Linked DNA regions of Homo sapiens: region 1 is linked to region 2. The links come from fine-mapping of genetic effects on gene expression. A gene starts in region 2. The other region holds a variant in brackets. All regions are shown on one strand. Distances are between the middles of the regions.

Region 1 (4,383 bases), 16 kb before region 2:
TTTGGAAAAGGTATTATAGAGCCTGCCCTGTGGTCACTTGTTCTTCAGATGAACTGATTTTTGTGCAGAGCGCACGTGTTGGATTCTGCCTGGTAAGAGTTTTTCCCATATGATAGCAAAAAACGACGGAAAGGGAAGCTTGGGATGCAAATGCAAGTTCAGGATAAACCACATCAGCAAAAGGACAAAGGCTCCACAAGGCAGGCGCACAGGCTGGTTCAGGACCGTGTGTAGGCGGCTGGTGGCAGCCTTTCCAGTCAGCTGAACATGGTGAATGGGAAAATCATTTTTATTCACCATGAAATTTTACTGATTTACCCTCCACTAGAATATGCTGATGGCTGTGATCACTGCTCAGAACTTGCTCTTGTCTCCTTGTATGTATTAAGAGTTTCCTGCAAAGTATATGAATCCGTGTTTGCCAGAATACAGAATAATAGTAAATTTATTATTTTTATTTTTATTTTTTTGAGAAGGAATCTCACTGTCCCCCAGGCTGGAGTGCAGTGGCGTGATCTCAGCTCACTGCAACCTCTGCCTCCCGGGTTCAAGTGATTCTCCTGCCTCAGCCTCCCAAGCAGCTGGGATTACAGACACACTGCCACCATGCCTAATTTTGTATTTTCAGTAGAGATGGGGTTTCACCATATTGGCCGGGCTGGTCTCGAACTCCTGACCTCAAGTGAACCACCCACCTCGGCCTCCCAAAGTGCTAGGGTTACAGGCATGAGCCACTGTGCCTGGCCAGTGCATAAATTTAGTTGGTCACAGTCAGTTTTAATTAGAATAGAAGCCAGGTGCAGTGCCTCACACCTGTAATCCCAGCATTTGGGAGGCTGAGGCAGGCCAATGACTTGAGCCCCAGAGTTGTAGACCAGCCTGGGCAACATGGCGAAACGTGTCTCTACAAAAACATAAAAAATGAGCCAGGTGTGGTGGTAGCACAGGAGGCTGAGGCAGGAGGATTGATTGAGCCTGGGAAGTCAAGGCTCCGGCAAGCTGTGATCACACCACTGCACTCCAGCCCAGGTGACATAGCCAGACCCTGTCTCAAAAAAAAAATTTTTTTTTAATAAAAACAGGCTGAAAGAAAAGATTGAGGTAGTCTCCCAGCACATGGAGCAAAAAGACAAAGTATTTGATAAACTCTTAGGTACATAAAGGATGCTTAAGGGAACATGCGGACATGGATTACTGTGGACTCACTGCTGGCTGCACACCCCCTGGCCAGCCATGCGGCCTCCGTGGGTTCTGAACATGTTGATGGTGCCAACCTCCTGGGCTGAAGTGGAAATGGAATGAGTTCTAGGGCATCTGTCTCTTAGATCATGTTAATGTCTGCTGTGTTTTTTCTGTATTGCTCTGTTAGAGTAATAAGAAACGTGATGGTGTTTCTGGCCTCAGGTGCGGATTGATGAGTACGATTACTCCAAGCCCATCCAGGGGCAACAGAAGAAGCCCTTTGAGGAGCACTGGAGGAAGCACACCCTGTCCTATGTGGACGTTGGCACTGGGAAGGTCAGTGTGGAGCTCGTTCTCACCACAGCCCAGCACCCACACGGCCCCGCCCAGGCCTGCGGGCTGGCCTTGCTGATGGTGAACGGGGAAGAGCAGGCCAGATTTAAATCAACTCCCGACAGATTCGAGGCACCGCTGAAAAAGGCACTCCGACAGCAGTCGGGCTTCGGGCTGGAAACAGAATCCAGTTCCTGCAGGTGGTTCAGAGGAGCCTTAAGGAAGGGTTGCTCCGTGGTGTG[C/G]GCCAGATGGACGTCACTGGGCAGGAGCAAGTGTCCAAGGCCTGGTGGTAGGGGAGGAGATGATGATTGTGGACCTAGCGAGAAAGCATCTGTGGGGTGGGGACACACAGCCATTACCAGAAACCAGTCCCACGTTAAGGGAGCCCAGAAGAGACACCTCCCCTCTCCTCCCACGGGCTGGGCCAACTGGAAGCGTCTGCAGGGGAGCTGAGGGGATGTGGTGCAGCCTTTAGCATCCCCTGGGCACTGAGCAAGCAGAGAAGGGCAGAAATGGAGGTGGGGTTGGGGTGAGCAGTGTCCTGGGAACAGCCAGCCGAGGGTGTGGTAGGGGGTCGCAGCCTTTTTCCACACACGGTGAGCAGCGTCCTGGGAACAGCCAGCCGAGGGTGTGGTAGGGGGGTCGCAGCCTTGTTCCACACAAGCACAGTTCACCTGTGTGGCATTTCCGCTGGGCATTAAGATTCAGAAATAATGAAGATAGAAAGCTTTTACCCTTAAACTTTTCATAGCTTGTAAGAGTCGTATAATCACTTAGCTGTGTCTGTGGAAGTTACCTTTGGACTCTCACTATCATCTAGTGTGTCTGTGATTCAGGCAGTAGGTCATTTTCAGGACTTCTCATGAAGGCCATTTCTTGATAGTGTATAGAAATCACACTTCACTCGCTTAGCACAAGTCTATTTTTAATGTTTCCGGGTTCGGGTTTTTTGGTTTTTTTTTGTTTTTCTGAGATAGAGTCTCATCTCTGTTGCCCAGGCTGATATGTGTTGGCTTGATCTCGTCTCACTGCAGCCTCAACCTCCCCCAGGCTCAGGTGATCCTCCCACCTCAGCTTCCTGGGCACATGGCACCATGCCTGGCTAATTTTTATATGTTTTGTAGAGATGGGGTTTCTCCACGTTGCCCAGGCTAGTCTTGAACTCCTGCGCTCAAGTGATCCACCTGTCTTGGCCTCCCAACAGGCATGAACCAACACCCCCAGCCAGTTTTAGTGATTTTTCAAGAAATACATACTCATTTTAGAAAGTACAAAGAGATTGAAATAAGAGCTCACTAACCAGAGACGACCCATTATGGTTTAAATTTCTTTGTATATGTGCCTACCTTTTCCTGTGTGTGCATATTTAATACACAGCTTGAGTATTCCTTCTCTGAAATCCTTGGGACCAGAAGCGTTGTGGATTTCAGGCTTGTTCAGACTTTGGAATATTTGCATTATACTTACTGTCTGAGCATCCCTAATCGGAAGATCTGACTCCATAGCACATTTCTTTTGAATGTCATGCTGGTGCTCAGAAAGTTTCAGATTTTAGAGAATTTCAGATTTTTGGATTAGGGATGTTCAACCTATATAAATATTTACTTTGAAGTAGAAAAACTGGAAGTAGATGGTTTAAACATAAAGTGTCTTGGTATAGACAAGGGTTCTCCCACTTTACATGATGGGAGCATTTTTGTAAAGCACTGAGAATCTTAAAGTTCACATGCCATAAATCTACTTTTATAGTTAAAATTTTTCAAAAGGAACACAAGAGATGGCTTTTTGTACATTTTTGTGCTTAACTTACCACTGACTCTTCTTTTCAAGGTCACTCTGGAATATAGACCCGTGATCGACAAAACTTTGAACGAGGCTGACTGTGCCACCGTCCCGCCAGCCATTCGCTCCTACTGATGAGACAAGATGTGGTGATGACAGAATCAGCTTTTGTAATTATGTATAATAGCTCATGCATGTGTCCATGTCATAACTGTCTTCATACGCTTCTGCACTCTGGGGAAGAAGGAGTACATTGAAGGGAGATTGGCACCTAGTGGCTGGGAGCTTGCCAGGAACCCAGTGGCCAGGGAGCGTGGCACTTACCTTTGTCCCTTGCTTCATTCTTGTGAGATGATAAAACTGGGCACAGCTCTTAAATAAAATATAAATGAACAAACTTTCTTTTATTTCCAAATCCATTTGAAATATTTTACTGTTGTGACTTTAGTCATATTTGTTGACCTAAAAATCAAATGTAATCTTTGTATTGTGTTACATCAAAATCCAGATATTTTGTATAGTTTCTTTTTTCTTTTTCTTTTCTTTTTTTTTTTTGAGACAGGATCGGTGCAGTAGTACAATCACAGCTCACTGCAGCCTCAAACTCCTGGGCAGCTCAGGTGATCTTCCTGACTCAGCCTTCTGAGTAGTTGGGGCTACAGGTGTGCACCACCATGCCCAGCTCATTTATTTTGTAATTGTAGGGACAGGGTCTCACTGTGTTGCCTAGGCTGGTCTCAAGTGATCCTCCCTCCTTGGCCTCCCAAGGTGCTGGAATTATAGGTGTGAACAAACCACCATGCCTGGCCTTGTAGTTTATTTCTAAGTTCAAATTAATGTTGGTGCCTGAGAACGAATGGAGAAAACTAACATTTCCTCCTTTTTCTTGGCAGACGGTTTACTAGGTGAGTGTGTCCTTGATTATTCAAATCAGGGGTCCCCAATCCCCAGGCCACAGATTGTTACCAGTCCATGGCCTGTTAGGAACCAGGCCGCACAGTAGGAGGTGAGCAGTGGGCCGGTGAGCTACTGTGTGAGCTCCACCCCCTGCCAGAGCATTACTGTGAACTCCGCCACCTGTCAGAG
Region 2 (4,383 bases):
CTAGTCTTGAAGTTCTGGCCTCAAGTGATCCTCCCACCTCAGCCTCCCAAAGTACTGGGATTATAGACATGAGCCACTGCGTCTAGCACTGAGCTGTTTCTTGCTGAGGTTTCCCTGTAAGAACTTCCAAATTGGGTCACAAAATCATAGTTGTTAGTATTTTCAGAGTTCTGGAGAACAAAACAGGAGCCAGTGATGGGAGGGAGAATAAAGATGGACTTCAGAAACTACAGCTCAAAGAGCTGTGGAAGATTCTAGAAAGGATTCTTCAACAAGTGATATGAATACTTTGTCAATGAAAAGGCTGAACCTCTGTGAAATACTTGAAGAGATTTATTCTGAGCCAAATAGAGTGGCCACGCCCATGACACAGACCTCAGGAGGTGGCTGGGGTGCAACTTGGTTTTATGCATTTTAGAGGGTCGTGAGACATCAATCAAATCTATTCAAGATATACATTGGTTCAGTCCAGAAAGGCAGGACAACTCAAAGTGGGGGCTTCTGGGTTATAGGTAGATTTAAAAATGTTCTGATTGGCAATTAGTTGAGAGTTATTACCAATAGAAAGGAATGTCTGGGTTATAAGAGGTTGTGGAGACCAAAGTTTTATCAGCAGAAGAAGCCTTGGGGTAGCAGGCTTCAGAGAGAATAGATGGTGTTTCTCATTAGACTTAAGGTCTGTGTTGGCTTTCCCTGAATTCCAAAAGGGAGGAGGGCATAGTCAGCCATGTCCCACCCGCCCCCACTTCATGTCGTGGCCTGAACGGTTTTCAGGTTAATTTGGAGTGCCCTGGCCCAGAGAAGGGGTCCATTCAGATGGGGTGGGGCCTTAGAATTTTACTTTTGGTTTACAACTTTATGAAGAGACCATTAGAAACCACTTGAATTCACATCATGAAAAAAAATCCACACTGTAAAAAAGGTTTGTAGATTAACACATTAGGTGAATGCCAAAGCCACAGAATATCTAAATTTCTCTGAGGAATTTGAAAACTCTCAGGTATATGCCTTGTGGACAAGAGAGACAGAAAAATGGGACAGAGGATGAGATAGTTTGGAGAATGGATAGCTGATCAGATCTGTAGCTGTGCCCAGAGTGCTGAATAATGGATTTGCGTCCACAGGGAAGAAAGTCTCAGGTGCCACTGATAAAAGACCACGTCCTTGGCTCTGGGTCCATTCAACATCTTGGTAGACAACTGAGTGAAAATTCAGAGACAACCCTAGGAAGTATGAGGATGAAAAAAGTTAGCATTCATGGAATGAGGCACTGAAGAAACTGAAAAGCTGAAATAACCCCATGAAATAATGAGAATAATTGTAGTATTCTGAACCGGGGCACAGGACACAGGACCGGGGTGGAAGGCGGCACGAGACTACGCGCGTGGGAAAGACCCAGGGATCACAGTGGCCCAAAGCTGGGCACTTCCCAATTCCGGGATTTGTGCTACAGGCACTCCAGGCTCCACCTTAGAACTGTGTCCAGCACGAAGGCAGTGCTGTCTTGCGGGAGGCAGGGCTGCACCACCACCGGGGTGTGAAGGGGCCCAGCAGGCAGGGGTGTGAAGGGGCCCAGCAGTGTTTCCAGCTGCACGGGGTCAGGGGCCGCGCTGATGCAGAGCACGGGGGCGCAGGTTAAACCTAAAGGAGGGAAGCTTTTGGGGGCGGAACAGACAACCGAGAATGCTGCACACTGCCTTTCCCACCCGAATTGTGTTTTGACTTTTTTTTTTTTTTTTTTTTGAGACAGAGTTTTGCACTTGTTGCCCAGGCCTGGAGTGCAATGGCCCGATCTCGGATCACTGCAACCTCCTCCTCCCGGTTTCAAGCAATTCTCCTGCCTCAGCCTCCCGAGTAGCTGGGATTACAGGTGTGCACCATCACGCCCGGTTAGTTTTGTATTTTTAGTAGATACGGGGTGTCTCCCAATTGGCCAAGGCTGGTCTCGAACTCCCGACTTCAGGTAATCCACTGGCCTTGGCCTCCCAAAGTGCTGGGATTACAGGCGTGAGCCACCGCGCCCGGCCTGCTTTTGCTTTCTTTTTTTTTTTTTTTTTTTTGGCAGAGTCTCGCTGTCCACCCCTGTAGTGCAGTGAGCTCGGCTCCCTGCGGCCTTGACCTCCCGGGCTCAGGCAATCCTCCCGCCTCAGCCCACGGAGTAGATGGGACCACAGGAGCCCACCACGCCCGACTACTTTTTGTAATTTTTGTAGGGATGGGGTCTATCCATGCTGCCCAGGCTGGTCCGAACTGCTGGGCTCAAGAGCTCCGCCCGCCTCCGCCTCCCAAAGGGCAGGGATCACAGGTGTGAGCTACCGCGCCCCGCCCAGAGTTTCCGACTGTTAGCAAATCACATTCACCTCAAAACTATTTATACAAGAACTGAAAGGCAAACTAAGTCCGTGCTCCATCACTTCCTGTCCCAGGTCGCGGGGCCGGACATTTTCTCCAAGCGCTTTCCTGGCACAGCGCGCAGGCGGCCTGCGCCAAAGCTCTGGCTTCCTCCAGGCGCCCAGACCCCGCCCTCCCCGCAGGCGCCAGGGCGTTGCCTGGCAACTTAGCTGCGAGGGGATTGGCTGCGCGGGACCCCGTGACCATCCCGGAGACCACGCATTTCCTGCGCCCCCGGAAGTGGTGATAATGCCAGGCCCTGCCCCCGGCAGAGGCGGAAGCGGAGTCGGCCTGAGAGGTCTCTCGTCGCTGCAGGCGCCTCAGCCCAGCCGCGTGCCTTGGCCCATGGCCGCCTACTCTTACCGCCCCGGCCCTGGGGCCGGCCCTGGGCCTGCTGCAGGCGCGGCGCTGCCGGACCAGAGCTTCCTGTGGAACGTTTTCCAGAGGTGCGGCCTGGCACCGCCCGGGCACCTCCCGCCTCCGCCGCGGCGGCCCCGACCCCTGTCCCGACTCCCCCGACCAACCCCGTTCCCTGCCGGTTCTACTGCGGCCTCCTCCGTCCCCTGTCGGGTCCCCCGCGGCCCCCTCCCGTCCCCTGCCGCCGCCCCCGACCCCTGCCCCAGCCGACGCGGCCGCCCCCGTCCCCTGGCGGGTCCCCCGCGGTCTCCCCCGTCCGCTGCCCGGTCTCCTGGGGCCGCCCCTGCCTCCTGCCCGGTCCCTGTCCTGTGCGTCGGGCCCTTCCCAAGATGCAGAGTGCGCCACTGCAGACCCGAGGTCGCGGCCACCGGCTCCTGGGCTAGGCCCTTTTTCTCGCCTCAAGAGCCGCCAGGTGGAGGGTCTCCAGGGTGCTTGTTTGGGGAAAGCGGAAACAGACTGCCTGGGCGCTGTTAAAATGTCAGCAGCCAAGGAAGAAGCAGCGACCTGGCGTCTGCTCGGGCCAGGTGACCTTTATGGCGGCGCCTTCTGTCCCTGGTCGCTTTTCCACCGAATGTCCGAAACTGTAGTGACTGATGGCCAGGGAATGGCTTAGTTATCTGAGGGAATCTTGTCTTGTCTGTGAAAAAGGGAAACGGGTGCAAATGGGAATTCAGACAGGCCAGGAGAGGAAGGAAGGGAAGGATTGAGGTGAAGATGATTGTCCTCTTAGGGGAAGACCACACTGGACGTCGGCTCCTGGGGCACTTCCTTGATTCCGCTGTACTCCTCAGCGGGACGGGAGAGGCGGAGGTTCCAGGAGGGAGCCTTCCAGAGTCGGTGCAGGGTTGACAGAAGACGTTTGTTTTGCTTTTCCTGAACTTTCGATCGCCAGCTTATTTGGTCTTCTTGATGTTATAGGGTCGATAAAGACAGGAGTGGAGTGATATCAGACACCGAGCTTCAGCAAGCTCTCTCCAACGGTGAGTGGGCCAGTGGGAACTGGGTCTCCGGACCAAGAAGCCGCGAGCCTGCCCTGTTCACAGTGGATAACTTTCTGAAGTTGTTTTTCCAAGGACAAAGGAATCATTAGGACAAATTGTTATTACTGCTTCGTAGTGGAGATGCTTCTGGTTTATTTTGTGGCTACCGCTGTTACTGCTTGGAGTGCCTCACCGAGCCAGCTAACAACTGCGTGCGTGAGCACAGGGAAAGGCTTCTTGAGAAATGAAAACTAGATTGTAGGTTTAGGAGGGGAATAGGAAGCTTAGCTCTGTACAGCCGAAAGCCTTTTGGTAAGTTGGAGGTCCTTGAATTTCCTGGGTGACTGCATCTTGGTGACTTCTCTGAATAGACCTTCGAGGGCACTGGGGGGTGATTGTTGGAGGGCTTGGGGAGCTCAGGCAGCCCTTGTATGGGAATGTGGCTGTTACAGGAACTGCAGAAACTGGGACTGGGTTCCTGGGGAAAGGATTGGGGGTGTTGGAGGCGCTGGCCAGGGGATTATGGGGAGGTGTTCTTATCAGTGTGCGAATACTGGGCGTTCAGGCAGCGGGAAATCCGGGTCCTTGCGTGTTG

Which allele goes with the higher level. Positions count from the first base shown, and alleles are read on the strand shown. Sizes are in standard deviations (SD) of each study's normalised expression.
For the expression in fibroblasts of the gene that starts at base 2,540 in region 2, allele G in region 1 goes with a higher level than allele C (moderate effect, 0.64 SD a copy in GTEx).

The links. PIP is the estimated chance that this variant, and not a neighbour inherited with it, causes the effect.
Region 1: its variant is the best candidate, but not a certain one, in a credible set for the expression of PDCD6-DT in fibroblasts (GTEx, PIP 0.63).

Annotation. Positions count from the first base shown.
Region 1 is chr5:252,989-257,371 of GRCh38, forward strand. It overlaps SDHA (succinate dehydrogenase complex flavoprotein subunit A), which reads left to right. Exons shown (of 15, transcript NM_004168.4): 14 at 1,405-1,518; 15 at 3,346-4,094. The coding sequence ends at 3,432. Among named protein-coding and RNA genes, the nearest start is that of PDCD6-DT, 16 kb to the right of the region's middle. The variant C/G (reference allele first, on the strand shown) is at 1,758.
Region 2 is chr5:268,985-273,367 of GRCh38, forward strand. It overlaps PDCD6-DT (PDCD6 divergent transcript), which reads right to left and starts at 2,540. Exons shown (of 2, transcript NR_104613.1): 1 at 2,361-2,540; 2 at 572-1,223. PDCD6 (programmed cell death 6) reads left to right here and starts at 2,662. Exons shown (of 6, transcript NM_013232.4): 1 at 2,662-2,837; 2 at 3,727-3,788. The coding sequence starts at 2,737. PDCD6-AHRR (PDCD6-AHRR readthrough (NMD candidate)) reads left to right here and starts at 2,662. Exons shown (of 13, transcript NR_165163.2): 1 at 2,662-2,837; 2 at 3,727-3,788. RefSeq lists enhancers at 1,011-1,703, 2,365-2,454 and a silencer at 2,745-2,954.